2 separate regions of the Homo sapiens genome follow, and region 2 is linked to region 1. The links come from fine-mapping of genetic effects on gene expression. A gene starts in region 1. The other region holds a variant in brackets. All regions are shown on one strand. Distances are between the middles of the regions.

Region 1 (8,335 bases):
TTAACTCCATAATGGAAATATTAGTCTACAAAATCAACTGCAAAGAAAGCTTTCACTAAGCCAGGCACGGTGGCTCACGCCTGAAATCCCAGCACTTTGGGAGTCCAACGCAGGTGATTCAGGTGAAGTCAGGAGTTCAAGACCAGCCTGGCCAACATGGTGAAACCTGGTCTCTACTTAAAAAAAAAAAAAAAAAAAAAAATTAGCCAGACAGGGGAGGCGGAGGTTGCAGAGCCGGGATCGCGCCACTGCACTCCAGCCTTGGCAACAGAGAGAGACTGTCTCAAAAAAAAAAAAAGCAAGCAAAGCAAGCTTTCACCTTTCACTTTCACTTGAAACATGAAAGCGGAAAAAGAATTTGCTTAAATAGGTCTATTTTGTGACGAGAATAAGGTTAAAAAAAAAAAAGCCCATTTTACTTTCTTTTTTGAGATGGTCTCACACTGTCATTTAGGCTGGAGTGCAATGGTGCAATCTCAGCTTCCTGCAACCTCCACCTCCCAGGCTCAAGTGATCTTCTCCTCCCACCTCAGCCTCCTGAGTAGCTAGGACTACAGGCGTGTGCTACCATGCCCGGTTAATTTTTGTCATTTTTTAGTAGAGATGGGGTCTGGCCATGCTGCCCAGGCTGGTCTCTTACCTCGCCACTGCCTCCTGGGTTCAAGTGATTTTCCCAACTCAGCCTCCCAAATAGCTGGGATTACAGATGTGCGCCACCACGTCCAGCTAATTTTTGTATTTTTAGTAGAGATGGGGTTTCCCCATGTTGGCCAGGCTGGTCTGAACTCCTGATCTCAAGTGATCTGCCTGCCTTGGCCTCCCAAACTGCTGGGATTACAGGAATGCACAACAGGGCCAGACCCCATTTTACTCTTACTAAGGATTTTTTAACTGTTTCTTGTAAGATAGTACTACTGAACTGTACAAAGGAATATAGCAGTCAGAAAACATTTCCAGCTGAAATGTTAATAAATAAAAATACAGAGGCCAGGCTAGGTGGCGCACGCCTGTAATCCCAGCACTTTGGGAGGCCGAGGAGGGTGGATCTCCTGAGGTCAGGAGTTCACCATCAGGCTAACATGGTGAAACCCCGTCTCTACTAAAATACAAAAATTAGCCGGGCTTGGTGGTGCGTGCCTGTAATCCCAGCTACTCAGGAGGCTGAGGCAGGAGAATCACTTGAACACGGGAGGCGGAGGTTGCAGTGAGCCCAGACCATGCCACTGCACTCCAGCCTGGGTAACAGAGCAAGACTCTGTCTCAAAAACAAAACAAAACAAAACAAAACAAAAACAAAAAAACAGGCTGGGTGCAGTGGCTCATGCCAGTAATCCCAGCATTTTGGGAGGCCAAGGTGGGCAGATCACCTGAAGTCAGGAGTTCGAGACCAGCCTGGCCAACATGGTGAAACCCTGTCTCTATTAAAAATACAAAAAAATTAGCTGGGCATTGTGGCAGGCACCTGTAATCCCAGCTACTCGGGAGGCTGAGGCAGGGGAATCACTTGAACCCAAGAGGCGGAGGTTGCAGTGAGTCAAGATAGTGCCATGGCACTCTAGCCTGGGCAACAAAGCGAGACTCCATCTCAAAAAAAAAAAAATACACAAACACACACACAAAAAAAATGTAGTGGAATGTGAAGAAATAAAGACCTCAACAGGAGACTTCTTTAACTCCAAATTGCTCATTCAGAAAACTCATCTTTCTTGCTGAAATTGTGGAGGATGACTTTTTCTTTTAAACCAATTAAAAGCAGACACCACAGCAGAGATCCACCCAATTCTTGGGACAGTCAGTGCCTGATGGGATATGTAGTTTTTAGGGTAGCACGTGTAACAATTTAAAGTAGGAAACACCCCCTTCAATTCAAATAAAAAATTCTGGTTTTTTTTTTTGAGACAGAGTTTCGCTCTTGTTGCCCAGGCTGGAGTGCAATGGCAGGATCGTGGCTCACTGCAGCCTCTGCTTCCTGGGTTCAAGCTATTCTCCTGCCTCAGCTTCCTGAGTAGCTGGGATTACAGGCATGTGCCACTATGCCCGGCTAATTTCGTATTTTTAGTAGAGACGGGGGTTTCTCCATGATGGTCAGACTGGTCTTGAACTCCCGACCTCAGGTGATCCGCCTGCCTCGGCCTCCCAAAGTGCTGGGATTACAGGCGGGAGCCACCATGCCCAGCCCCAAAATTCCTTTTTTAAACTAATATTCTAGTGGCCCACTATTCTCCAACAATTCCTACTTTAAATTGTTGCATGACCCCTGTAGTAAAAAGCATCACTCAGATCTGACAAACTTAGTGACACCCCCAGTTTTTACAAATTATTGACACCCCCTCAAAGCTAACAGCATGATTATATAATTGGGAAGAGTTGTTCCTAAGAGAGAACATGAGTTCCAGAGATGTATAAGAACTATCTATATGTGTAATCTGTACTGCCAGTTAGCCCCAGAAATGCCCTGGACACAAAATCTGTCCAAGCTGCAAACAAAATTTGCCATCTCTAGCACATCATTCTGATTCAGGTGGTCTTTACTACAGGACTTTTTTCGTGTAACCCTTAGCAAGTTGTTTGAGGCTAAGAAGGGAAGACCTGAGTCTGAAGCAAATAAAAGTTATACACAACTTTTACTGACATTTTTGAACACGGATAGTATTAAACCAAGGGTCACTGTGCCAGGAGGGGAAAAATTAAGTACTGTAATTATATATATTGAATTATATATAGAGAGCTATCCCCAGGATAAAGGAATCACTGTTTACTCTGGTAATGATCTGGAGGTTTAAAAACACACACACACACAAATAAAAAAAAAAAACAAACACTCAAGTTGACTGGGCCAGAAATCTTATTTGCTCTTCCTTCTCCCCAACAGTTTTTTATTTCGAGTTAGTTCTATCTAAGGAATTTACACCCTTGATCACTTAAGTCACCCTAAAGTGGAGTATGTAATCAATATTGGTTATTTTCTCATTGGAGTCTTTTTTGACATTTTAAAGAAATGCTATTTAAAACAGACAATATGGACAGATTCTGATGGAATTATTCTTGTTCACGTACTCCTTTCGTTTGGACAGAGGTATCTGCCGGTACTGAGATGTAAGTGATCAGCTGAAGGGAGAAACTGTACACCATGTGACGGACAAATTACCTGCCTCAAGAAAGCACTTACGACCATTCTGCAGCCACTCAGTGACCTTGGCTAGAAACCAATGGCTGTGCGGCGTGAGGTAAGATGAAAGGAAATACCCTAGGGATCCAGGACTTCTGCATTTGGTGAAACGTCCGCTTCCACTACAAGGCTTTGGGATGCCTAGTCTGTAGACTGGAGGAGCATTAATACTGACTCACGCAGAAAAGATATAGCTACATATTGGACTGGGGGAAGGGGTGGCAAAACCCTCTGCAAATAGGAAGTGCCACAAGAGCACCGAGATAAGGATGAGGCCCTGCGTGAGCGCAGCCTTCGGGTTTTCCTTGGGCCGATCAGCACCGACTCCCCCGCTCTCGGCGAGGCGCCTCCAGCTCCCGGGAATGAGAAATGTGCCCGCCGCAGCAGGGGCCCACAGGAATGAAGGGCCCCGGCGCTGCGTAGGCCCAACAGTTCCCCGCGCTCTCGCCCCCGGCCCAGCCCCGCCTTTCTTCCCCCGCCTCGGCAGAATGGACTCACCAGGGGGCGAAGAACTCGACGAGCATGAGGCCCGCAGAGCCCGTGTCGGAGATGCGACTCTCGAAGTTGTCGTCCGTGAGTTCTAGCACGTCGGAGGCAGCGGCGAGGCGGGCCGCGGCAAGAAGCAGCGCCACACCCGGGAACAGCGCTAGGCGGCGGAGGCGCATGGCGGCGAGGTGGGGTGGGGACGGCCGGAAGGGTCGCGGCTCGGCTGGGACTGCGGAGGTCGGGCGCGCGACCACTAACCCGCTGCTTGCGCTCGCGCGTCTGGCCCAGGCGGACCTGCAGCCGGAGGTCCCAACCCCCAAACCCGGCTTGGGCCGCTGTGTGGCAGCCGCTGATTGGCTGCGCGTCGCCTTCGTCGGGCGGGCGGGACCAACTCGTTACCGCCGAGTGGCCGGAGCGCGGGGCGGGGCCGAGGCGGCGAGTGTCTGGGCGAGCGTGGCTGGGCCCGGTCCTGGGCTGGGGGCAGGGGCTAGGGCCGGGTCCCGGGGTGAGCCGAAACCTGGGGGTCGGGCGGGGCGGGAAATGGGGCGCAGTGAGGCTGGGAGCCGGCCCTGAGCTCGTCCTGCGTAGGGGTAGCCGGGCTCAGGGGGCGCCTGAGCTGGAGGTGGAAGCGTGAAGTCAGGACTGAGTGGGCGAAGAGAACCTGGGCTGAGGTGAGGCCCAGAAGCGAGAATGGAGGAGAGAAGGAGCTAGCCCCCGAAGGAGTGTTGGAGTGGACACACTTGGGACGGGACCCATTTTCAAAATGTCAGGCTTTGGCATTTTGTCCAATTTCTCTTCACTTGGTTTCTCTTGCGTGGGCAGGCCAAGCCCTCCCCCAACTCCACCTCATTGCCCGATTCTCTCAGGCCCAGGTGGGACCCAGGTTCTTCTTTGTCCAGCCCCGGGCCCCTGCCCTTGTGGCTGCTCCTTTTTTATTGAGTTTCTTGTTTTGTTTTGTTTTGTTTTGTCTGAGATGCCGTCTTGCTCTGTCCCCCACGCTGGAGTGCAGTGGCGCGATCTCCGCTCACTGCAAGCTCTGCCTCCCGGGTTCACGCCATTCTCCTGCCTCAGCTTCCCGAGTAGCTGGGCCTACAGGCGCCCGCCACCACGCCCGGCTAATTTTTTGTATTTTTAGTAGAGACCGGGTTTCACCGTGTTAGCCAGGATGGTCTCTATCTCCTGACCTCGTGATCCGCTCGCCTCGGCATTCCAAAGTGCTGGAATTACAGGCGTGAGCCACCACGCCCGGACTTTTTTTTTTTTTTTTTTTTTTTTTAATGAGCTTTTAATTGGTAGTGCCGTCACAAAGTGAAGATGCCTGGCCACTTGGTCGACTGCTCAATGTCTTTACCACTCTTAGCCCCTTTTGTTTCAAAAAACCCTGAGTCTTAGTAGAATGTTTGTTCTGCCCAACTGCTCCTAGTTCGTAGATGTGGGTACATTAAGGAATCTTAAGGGCAAAGAGGGTGGGGAGGAGGGGACAGAAAACCTGTAATCCTTGGTGCAGCTCCAAGAATGAAATGACACTTGATGCTTACATTTTCTTAGCAGACATGGCCGCTTACCAACAAGAAGGGCAGATGCAGCTTCCCCGAGCTGATGCCATTCGTTCACGTCTCATCGATACTTTCTCTCTCATCGAGCATTTGCAAGGCTTGAGCCAAGCTGTGCTGCGACACACTATCAGGAGTTACTTGGTCAGCAGCCTATTTCTTCACTAATTTAAATTTAAGACTCCTATCCACATCCTCTACATTTAAGAGTGGAAAATTCTGGGGAGGCCGGTTTAGTTGCTGGTTTACCAAACTTGATAAATCAAGGGCTTGTAAATAAAACTAAGGAGATAGAATCCACGTCTTTCACTTTTAGGCCTAGGATAGCCACTAGCCGTGGATGATACGGAACAGTTTCTGTCAAAGACTCTTAAAACTTTGAGAGTGAACCTGCTGCTTTTGTGGGCATGGACAGTGTTGGTCATAAGCAATACATTTGCTCTCACTCCAAACAGAATTCTTAGTTGCTGTGAGAAGAGAAGGACCAGCAGTAAGCCATTAGGGGGACCCATTATCTGAACAGTATCCCTGCCCCCAACCCTACCTGGTCTATTTTGTTTGTATTTATCCACTACCCCTTTTCAATTTTTGTTGTAGATCCTTCCCGCCAGAAGAAACTTATGTTGGGAGATCAACACCAGCTAGTGGGCGTCTCTATAAAGCCTCAACGTATAGAACAGATTTCACATGCCCAGAGGCTGTTGAGCAGGCTTCATGTGCGCTGCAGTCAGAGGCCACCTCTTTCTTTGTGGGCCGGATGGGTCCTTGAGTGTATCCTTTCATGTCACTCATTTTTATCCTGGCTGTTGATCATCTGCCTAATGACTTATTTTTTGCTTCCCAAACTCCATTGTCTCATTCTCACTGCTTATGTTATTGCTCTTATTATTTCAGCTGCATAAATCAGAAAGAACTCCACTCTGTATGTTTCCTTAAGAGACAACAGGTCCTCTCTTCAAAAACTTCATCATCTTCCTGATCTTTTTGAATACGATCGTACTGATGGTTGAAATACGTGAGAACTGACATTGTATGAAAGAGGAAGTGAGGCCAGGCGCGGCGGCTCACACGTGTAATCCTAGCACTGTGGGAGGCCGAGGCAGGCGGATTGCCAAAGCTCAGGAGTTCAAGACCAGCCTGGGCAACATGGTGAAACCCTGTTTCTACTAAAAAATACAAAAAATTAGCTGGGCGTGGTGGCATGGCCTGTAGTCCCAGCTACTCGGGAGGCTGAGGCAGGAGAATCGCTTGAACCCAGGAGGCGTAGGTTTCAGTGAGCTGAGATTGTGCCACTGCATTTCAGCCTGGGCGACAGAGTACAACTCTGTCTCAAAAAAAAAAAAAAAAGAAAAAGAAAAAGAGGAAGTGGGTAGGAGTAATTTTTTTTTTCTAAATTGATCATTTTACATTTTTGAATGTCATTTGAAATGTGACATTTATATTAAGGACAATTAAGCCTCCTGGAGTAGAATTTATGCAACTGCTAAAATCTAGAAATATTCGCTGGGCACGGTAGCTCACACCTGTAATCTCAGCACTTTGGGAGGCCGAGGTGGTTGAATCACTTGAGGTCAGGAATTCAAGACCAGCCTAGCCAACATGGCGAAATCCCATCTCTACTAAAAATACAAAAAATTAGCTGGGCGTGGTGGCGGACACCTGTAATCCCAGCTACTCAGGAGGCTGTGGCAGAATAACACTTGATCCTGGGAGGCGGAGGTTGCAGTAAGCCGAAATCACGCCACTGCACCTGATCTCAAAAAAAAAAAAAAGAAATATTAATATTTGGAGGGCTCTCAAGCGTATACTAGATACAGAGCATCTAGACACATAAAACTAGGTGTAATATGTAGCAATGTAACAAATCCACAAGGAATTGAACTTGGGAAGACCAGTTTTATTTCTGTTGTCAGTTTAGGCTGACAATTGTTTGCATTAACCTTTTCTGTTAAAGATATTGGTGCCTATCGGTGAATGATCTAACATTTACATTTTTTTTTTTTTTGAGACGGAGTTTCACTCGGTCGCCCAGGCTGGAGTGCAGTGGCACGATCTTGGCTCACCACAAGCTCAGCCTCCCAGGTTCACGCCATTCTCCTGCCTCAGCCTCCGAAGTAGCTGGGACTACAGGTGCCCGCCACCACGCCCAGCTAATTTTTTGTATTTTTTAGTAGAGACGGGGTTTCACCGTGTTAGCCAGGATGGTCTCAATCTCCTGACCTCGTGATCCACCCGCCTCGGCCTCCCAGAGTGCTGGGATTACAGGGGTGAGCCACTGCGCCCAGCCTAACATTTACATTTTTACAAGTATATTTAGAAATATTATTCAAGTAAAAATAAGAAAGCTCACAAAGTATGGAAAGGTAGGTACCACTAAGATATTAGCTGAGCCAAAAAAATTACTTAAAAGGAAATGATTCTTAAACCAATAATAAATTATATGAAACATATTCAAAACATAAGGATGTCTGCAAAATCAGTGAGCTCATTTGTTGATAATCTCAAACTGCTCAGAAATGATGAAAGGACAGTAGAACTACTCACTTGTTTCATTCTCACTGTTGTAGAGAAGTCTCCCACTTTATTTTTTAGTGACAGAGTCTCACTTTGTTACTTAGGTTGGAGTATAGTGGTGTGATCATGGCTCGCTGCATCCTCAACCTCCAGAGCTCTATTGATCCTCCCACGTCAGCCTCCTGAGTAGCTTGGACTACAGGTGCATGCCACTACACCAAGCTAATTATGTTGATTTTTTTTTTGTAGAGACAGGGTCTCACTATGTTGTCCAGGCTGGTCTTGAACTCCTGGGCTTAAGTGATCCTCATACCTCAGCCTCCCAAAGTGCTGGGATTACAGGCATGAGTTACCACGTCCAGCCTAGGAGGAATTTTTAAGAGAAGGGCGTAGTTATGAAGCTCTTGGCTGTTTATGTCACACAGATATTTTCCTCAACAGAAGTGTCCAGTGCCGGTAGCCAGTTCAGAACTCTGCCTCTAGCTCCAAGTCCCCTACAAGCTTATCTCTGGGGCCCAGGCATGGTGGCTCATGCCTGTAATCCCAGCACTTTGGGAGGCTGAGGCAGGAGGATTGCTTGAGCTCAGGAGTTTGAGACCAGTCTGGCCAATGT
Region 2 (8,275 bases), 780 kb before region 1:
TCCAGACTAAGTAACAGAGTGAGACTTCATGTCAAAAAAAAAAAAAAAGTTTCATCATTGAAGCTATAGAAGAGTAAATAAACAACACAAATGAAGCAGAGCTACTTATAGGTTCTTTTTTTTGAGATGACATTTTGCTCTCGTTGCCCAGGCTGGCGCAATCTCTGCTCACGGCAACCTCTGCCTCCCAGGTTCCAGTGATTCTCCTGCCTCAGCCTCCTGAGCAGCTGGGATTACAAGTGTGTGCCACCATGCCCAGATAATTTTTTGTAGTTTTAGTAGAGATGGGTTTCATCGTGTTGGCCAGGCTGGTCTCGAACTCCTAACCTCAGGTGATCCCCCCGCCTCAGCCTCCCAAAGTGCAGGGATTACAGGTGTGAGCCATTGTGCCTGGCCTTAGAGTTCTTTTTTTTTTTTTTTTTTTTTTTTTTTGAGATGGACTCTCGCTCTGTTACCCAGGCTGGAGTGCAGTGGCACAATCTCGGCTCACTGCAAGATCCGCCTCCTGGGTTCACGCCATTCTCCTGCCTCAGCCTCCCGAGTAGCTGGGGCTACAGGTGCCCGCCACCGCGCCCGGCTAATTTTTTTTGTATTTTTAGTAGAGACGGGGTTTCACCGTGGTCTTGATCTCCTGACCTCGTGATCCGCCCGCCTCGGCCTTCCAAAGTGCTAGGATTACAGGTGTGAGCCATGCGCCCGGCCCCTTTATAGCTTCTTTTTAAGAGGAAGTACCTTAAGCATCAGACTCAAAATCTTATAAAGATGGACTAGGTTAAGGCTGAAGAGCAGATTGTTTTAATTGGAAATAGGGGCAGGTCAAAACTCCTATTTATAAAAGTGCAAAATTATGGAGTCATTGCATGTTTTTTCTAATGATTTCTTGGGAAAAAGAGTACATGTAAAAACAAATTTTGGCAGAGCACAGTGGCTCATGCCTGTAATCCCAGAACTTTGGGAGGCCAAGGCAGGCGGGTGGATCACTTGAGGTCAGGAGTTTGAGCCCAGCCTGGCCAACATGGTGAAACCCTGTCTCTACTAAAAATACAAAAATTGGCTGAGCATCATGGTGCACGCCTGTAGTCCCAGCTACTAGGGAGGCTGAGGCGGGAGAATCGCTGGAACCCGGGAGGCAGAGGTTGCAGGGAGCTGAGATCCCACCACTGCACTCCAGCCTGGACAACAGAGCAAGATTACATCTCAATAATTAAATAAATAAAGTTTTTGATTTATATGATTTGATTAAGTTAAATGAAATTTTTTATTTTAAACCAAAACGAAAAACCAAAACCCTACCCCCATGAGTCTTAAGACACGAAACTGTCTCCATTCAACTTCCATATATTTTTCCATACTTACAGGGTACCATAAAATCCTACAGTACCTTCCTATTCCTGTCTGGCCAGCGGAAAAAACATGCCTTCCTCAGGGAGTGCCTAAAATCCACATGATTAGTAAGCTCTCAGTAAGCCACACAAGCCATACTCTCCCCAGAACCTTAACAATCTTCTGACCTGACTGTCCACTATGATGCTATCACCCAGTGCATTAACTTAGAGAAAGGGAATACTTTACATGGAGAGTTATATAACTGCTAACTGGCCTCCCACCCACCCACTCTATTTCCAAAGCGATCTTTTAAAATACGCACCTGATCATTTACTCCCCTGAGCCTCCTCTCCCCACAGCCAAGCCTAGCTTTAGCCCTTTAACCAATAAAAGGATCTTGACTTTCTCTACTGGTAGATTTTAAGCTTAAGATTTTAAGGCATTGTCTGTTTTGCCACCTTCTACCATTCACAGAGCCTGGCATGGTGCCTAACACGTAGTGGTTTTTATTTTTTATTTTTTGAGATAGAGTCTCTGTCACCGAGGCTGGAGTGCAGTGGCACAATCTCGGTTCACTGCAACCTCTGCCTCTCTGGTTCAAGCGATTCTCCTGCCTCAGCCTTCCAAGTAGCTGGGACTACAGGCGTGCACTACGATACCTGGCTAATTTTTGTATTTTTAGAAGAGACGGGGGTTTCACCATGTTGTCCAGGCTGGTCTCAACTCCTGACCTCAATTATCTGCCCACTTCAGCCTCCCAAAGTGCTGGAATAATAGGCGTGAGCCACTGCACCCGGCCTAACAGGTCTTTTAAAAAATGCAACCCACTGCTGTCTTTCTTAAAAACCCTCCCTGACATCTGTGGTCCTGTGGTATTACAATATCCTGATCCTACTGCACATTCCTGCTTTCTGGCTTCAGACATCTCTCAAAACCTGGTATATAGTTCTCATCCCTCCTTCAGAAAACTACCTGCTTTAACATCTCCATCCTCATGTTACTTGTATATTGCTTACGGCTTATAACATGTTTTGACATTTCATTTGATCCTTATAATTCTGAAAGGTAGGTAACAACCCTCTTGCTTATTAAGTGGCTGGGTTTTCAGGGACTTGAACTCAAATTTGATTCTGAACTTCATGCTTTCATTGACCATGCTCTCAAGTCAACTATCTGCCTGAATAGAATGTTATAGTGCAATCACTTATTTCTCAAGGATTATTGCAGTGGCTTTCAAAACTGTGTGCGCCTCAAACTCCTTTGGAGCTTAGGGAAAATAGCTATCACAAAGTCTCATCACAGAAACTAGTGTGGGACCAGAGTGCTACTATGCTATAGTGATACTGGCTCATTATTTTAGCCCATACATCGAGTATATTCCTCATCTTAGCGCACTATAATCTGGTTCACTCTTGCCATCTTCTCTCTCCTTTTCAAAACCAACCCCTTTTAATTCTGGTTGGTATCTTCAAGTGTTTTTCACCTCTGCTCACAGTAGTTCCAGCAATAAAGAATGCCCTTCCAAAATCATTACTGTAACGGTAATTAAGAGACTTACATTCTAGTCCTAGCTCTGTGATCTTGGGAAAACACTAAAATAGAGTACACCTAGAACTTGAAATTTCCTTCTAGTTTAAAATGAATTATTACCTATAGGTCTAGTTTGTACCACTGTATATTCCTTACATTTTATAAGAACATTTTGTTGGCTAAATAGACTTACAAACTTGAGAAAGCTTTGTATTCATGAACAAACATAATCATACAAAATGCCAAGGCACTAGGAAACAGAATATTATGGTGATAACTAAATTCAAGTCTCCCAGAGGAACTGCATAGTCTTGGGTCACAGCTTTCTCCAAGTCTCAATTTCCTTTATGTTTTTCAACATCAAAAGGGAAAGTAATGTGAAAAAAAGATATGCTTCTAAACAAAAAAAAGCACTGTACAAATGTTGTTAGAAATTATATTGTTTCTGATGGCTGATAAAATATCATCAAAGAGAAGTGCTTCCATAAAAGTTTTATTTATCCCCACAACAACCCTGTGAGGTAGGGTGATCAGGGCATTTGAAGATGAGAAAACTAAATCTACATTACTTGTTCACGGCTATACTGCATAGTAAATAAGAAGAAATTAAATTGAGATTTTAAAATGTCCATGACTTTAATATTGATTCACGTGGAAACAAGGCAGAGAGAATATTAACTCCCCCCTACCTTAATGCCAAAAGGACACTGCCTTGAAAAATCCCATTTCAAAAGATGAAAGTAGTATTTCATTGCTTATTTCTACAAAGATTTATAAAATAAAAAAATAGTGAAATATTTTACAGATAATATATATAATGGTCTCATTCAGGGACATGTCCTTTAGCTATGTATATGGTCAACTATTCCAAGTCCTAGAAATGCAAACCCTTAAAAAATATGAAAGACAAAAATGATAATGAGCAGTAGCCTTAATC[T/C]TCTTTATTATTCCTCCATGTATCTTGAATAAGCTCTGTGAAATCTGGTCCCAGTTTAAAAAAAAAAAAACTCTACCACAAAGAGATGTCTGGTGAACTTTAATTTTGTTGCCTACTCTCAAACCAGTGTCACATTTAGCTAAAACATTGATTACCCAATACTGGCTATTAGAATCACCAGGAGAGCTTTAAAGAAAAAACAAAACAAAACAAAACAAAACCAACCAAACAAAAAAAAAAAGCCAGAACTCTCAGGCCCCTCTCGAGATCCAGCGAGACAATTTTCCAGGGGTAGGCTCCAGGAATCTATTTTAAAAGCTCCTCAGAGTAATTCTAATGGTCAGGTTTCGGGATCAACTGATGTATCTTAAAATACTAATATCAAAAGCATAAACTAGTATAAACTTGTCGCTCTCTCCCCCGCCGCCCCACCCTTTTTTAAAAAAGATCTCAAATCATGTTATATCCCCAGAACTCTTGCCTCTGGGCAAGTAATTTCAATTCAAGATACAGAGAAACATTTTATAAAAATGTACCCTAGTTAGTGAGACTTGGATTCCAATAATAACTTAAGTAGCATTTAAATATAAGATACTGAGTTTTGTGGTTCATATTCTGAAAATTCTTAAATGTATTTTATACATGTTTGTCGTAGGCTTTCAACTCAGGGGAAGACATGAGAAGTAATGACATCAGCACTAAAAAAATACTATACTCAATTATAGCTCATGAGAGGAATAAGAAAGTCAATGAATGACAACCCTAAGGCCTTTTGGCCCATACATTTTTGTTCCCAGTCCACTCTTCCCCTATAAGGGGAAATAAAATAAACATTCTTTACTAGTTGCTTGGCATAGTTATTCGGTGGGTAACTATTAACTAAGTTAATTTAGATACACAAGATTAAAAGATAACAAATAAATACCTAGGAAGACAAAGAGAAGTCAGGTCAGAAAACCTTAACTAGCTAATGATGTAGTATATAACACCATCATATTAGTACAATTAAATAAAGGCTTCAATGTCCTTTACATTTTAGCTTTATGTGATTGACACAGACATGGAAGAGATCTGGTCCTTATGAAGAATTCTGTGCTCGCAGGAAAGATCTGTAGGAATAATGAAATGCTTTCTTCATTGATGAGATGAAGTCTCTGTTTTTCAGGCAAGTTGACAGAACAAAACAATGAGAAACGAACTTCTTTAGAAGGTTGAATGAAAGTAAGATCTAGATGAAAAAGTCATTGGCCAAAGATAATTTTTTAAAAAAAACATTCTATGTTAACCCTTGGAAAAAAAAACAAAAAACAACCCAGAGAAATACAAGAAAACAATGTACACATTCATTTCACTGACAGTTACAAGAAAATAGCCGTTTATAGAAGTTACACAATGCTTTCAACAAATCCCAAACAAATTTTGGGAAACAGATAAAGCCATTGGGTAAAAATAAATATACATACTAGCTAATATAAAACAATTTATGGTTACGAATTGTCATCAATTCTCTTAGGACACAAGGAGAAATATGGTGATATAAATCTGATGAGGGCTACATATATTACATGGAATTAAAAAACAACTGATTAAAACATCCTAACAATGATACAAATATTTAAAAGAATGTCTTAAAAGTCAGACATTTACCACTGGAAATAGCACGACTTTAATATGTACTCCAGAGTTGTAATGTGTATACAGGTCACTTTCGCTGTGTCTCATCAGGTATCCACCTCTCCTGCATTTACTAGTCAGTTTTTTAAGAGTTCATGTTTCCTGTGTGAGCTGAAGGGGCTGGGCACATTTCAATTTAAAAAATACACACCTCCGATTAACTAAATGGAAGTTTTTTACATCTACCAACAGATAAAGAAAAGAGAGGATAATGGGAAGACAAAACATTGTATTAAGGTAGAAGGAAGCTGGATAAATTGTCTCTGTAAATTATCTTAAATTTTGTATTAACAAATTTAAAATGACTCAAATAAAATAACAAAGAAAAATATATTAATTTGGCCTCAAGGAATTTTCTCAAGCCATAAAAAATTTTCTTAGTTTATTTCTTTACGGAAGTATCTTATGCTTGATCAGCTGACTTAAAGGAACTCTCCTAGTGTGGGACTGAAAACAACTTTATCATTGATAAAAGATGATTAGTTTAAAAAGTTGGTTTTTATTATTGAAGTGCCCACAGGCACAAGAGTATAGGTGCTTACATTTCCCTTTAGATTATGGGAAAGCCCTTTTGAGAATGCACTAAATCAGGAAATCTTTCAGCAATCAGAATGCATGCTGAAAGTTCAGATCTTTTAAGTTTTGGGTTTCGCTGTTTGAGCATAAAAAGGAAGGGAGCAGGGAGAAATGTAACTAGGTTCACAATTTTGAGCAAGAGCATATGTAAAGGTAACGTATGTACATTTTATTTCAAGAAAGACAGAAGACAAACAGCATAAAGATGCCCAGATGCCCTAAAGATAAATACATTTCAAAGATTCTCATTAAAATGAATCTGTAGTATTTTTTTCCTGCAAGCAAAATACCTTTCTTTAAATAAAATTAAAAAAATCAGTATTCTGAATTGCAAATGCTTTTGTTTTTTTTTTGCAGAAAATCTGCCATGATTATTTTTTTAATGAATAAGGATTTTCCACAAAACAGGCTTGCTCTACATGCTAGATTTTTAAACAGTTCAGTGACACAATATGCTAACTACATACACAACAGATAATATAGTAAGAAAACACTCAACCTGATGAAAAGTTAAAATCTTCATTAATACACTGAAAATTGACATAACTCATGCCTTTAAAATCAAAAATACAAAAATTAAATGTTTTCCTAAAAAGATTTCCTTATTTTAAGGATTCATTTGAAAATGAAGCTGCATGTAATTTGTACAGTAAGTTGTACAAGTAAACAGGTAATATACATAAAAAATTAATTGACATACTCCTCAATTATCAGTTGTCCACCTTTAATTTCCAATACTGTACTTTCTTAACAAGCATACAAAATATCAAACTTCTCTTTAGAAAAAGTGCCGTTCTTTGACATCCTTTACACAAAAACAGTCTGAGCCTGTGGCATGTTAATGCAGTTGAGAGGCAAAGCATACGAACTTTTACAAATTCTACCTTCCATAAAAAGCCTCCCGAAAAGGAGATTACACGCCACTATAAAAATATCAACCTCTTGTGGTAGCTGCATTAGAGAACCAAGGCTTGAAGACTATTTTCATATAGCATAGAAAAACCACTATGAGAGCATATTAACTGCATTGGTGGCTTGGGAGTGTACTGTGCCACAGGATTATGCATAGCTACTGTTAGGTACCAAGACTGTTATACAGTTTTAAATTGATTGTAACTGAGAGCATAACAGAGGTACTACCAGCCCATGCAAAATAACTAAAAATACTGAGTCACTGTGCTGAATACTTCATTCCTGGAGAAAACCAAAGGCAGCAGTAACTAAATCAAGCCAAACAGGTGACCAAACTTTCTCCTCAAAGATTTGTGAGCACAGTGAAGTCTGAGGTATACCTTTATCCATTAAATCTGTGTGCCATTGCAAGATATTACCATTTGAGAATATACGCCATCACAATGGTTTAAATCTTTTGTATATTAGTCATTCATATATTCTTATCTACCCAGTCTCTTGATTTTTGAAAAGATTTCACCTACAGTAGAATATTACAGAAACAAAATATAAATGCATGTCTTTCTAAATGAAACTTACATAGACTAAAAGTAGAGAATATTTTTAAACAAATATACAATGTGCAGGCAGACAAAGCAGGAAAACGGCCATTCAAATGTATAATAAAAAACTAAAAATTGACTATCTCCAGAAAACTATGAAGCGCCTCAACTAAAAGGAATGCATAATGAAATTCTAATCTAATACAGGTCAAAAATGTAAAAAGGTTATAAACCTTAACAGGAAAAATAAAACAACTTTTACTGGCCATTCCTGTTGAAATGAGAATCATAAAGTAACAGAAAAGTGGCTACAAACCCACTTAGAGCACCAAACAGAGAGAAAATAAAAGTCCATTTTCATCTCTGTTATTATCATAAAATCCTGTGTGACTACAGGTCAAACTGCTGGTGGCAGAAACAGAATTCTTTATAAACTGCAGATGTCCTGTACATAAAAAATTTCACTGGAGTTGCACTAGTTCTAAAGACTCTTCTGTTTTAGCCTACCTACTATATGTATTCGATCTGAGATAGATAAAGTCTCTTTCTGTAACCCTTAATTATTATTGGGCACCAAAGATAAGAAAAGCAAGACGGGGTACAAAAATGCAAAATTTCAACAGTAATGGCAATGTTTTTGTCTTAGTCCAAAAGGGTCCTGCATTCTCTCCCCCTTCAGTGATTTGACAAGTCTTTGTACTTAATCTGGGGGCAGCAAATCATGCAAGCGAAATCTGTCTCTGATGTGTGGTCGAACATCTTCATTCTGCGTGGAAAA

The links.
Region 2: its variant is fine-mapped to the expression of PDIA3 in whole blood (INTERVAL, PIP above 0.99).

The regions. Positions count from the first base shown.
Region 1 is chr15:43,742,039-43,750,373 of GRCh38, reverse strand. PDIA3 (protein disulfide isomerase family A member 3) reads right to left here and starts at 3,936. Exons shown (of 13, transcript NM_005313.5): 1 at 3,668-3,936. The coding sequence starts at 3,834. It also overlaps the pseudogene CATSPER2P1. RefSeq lists enhancers at 3,311-3,360, 3,371-3,420 and a silencer at 3,921-4,220.
Region 2 is chr15:44,524,097-44,532,371 of GRCh38, reverse strand. CTDSPL2 (CTD small phosphatase like 2) reads right to left here. Exons shown (of 13, transcript NM_016396.3): 13 at 3,334-8,263. The coding sequence ends at 8,198. Among named protein-coding and RNA genes, the nearest start is that of EIF3J-DT, 8.7 kb to the left of the region's middle. The variant T/C (reference allele first, on the strand shown) is at 3,794.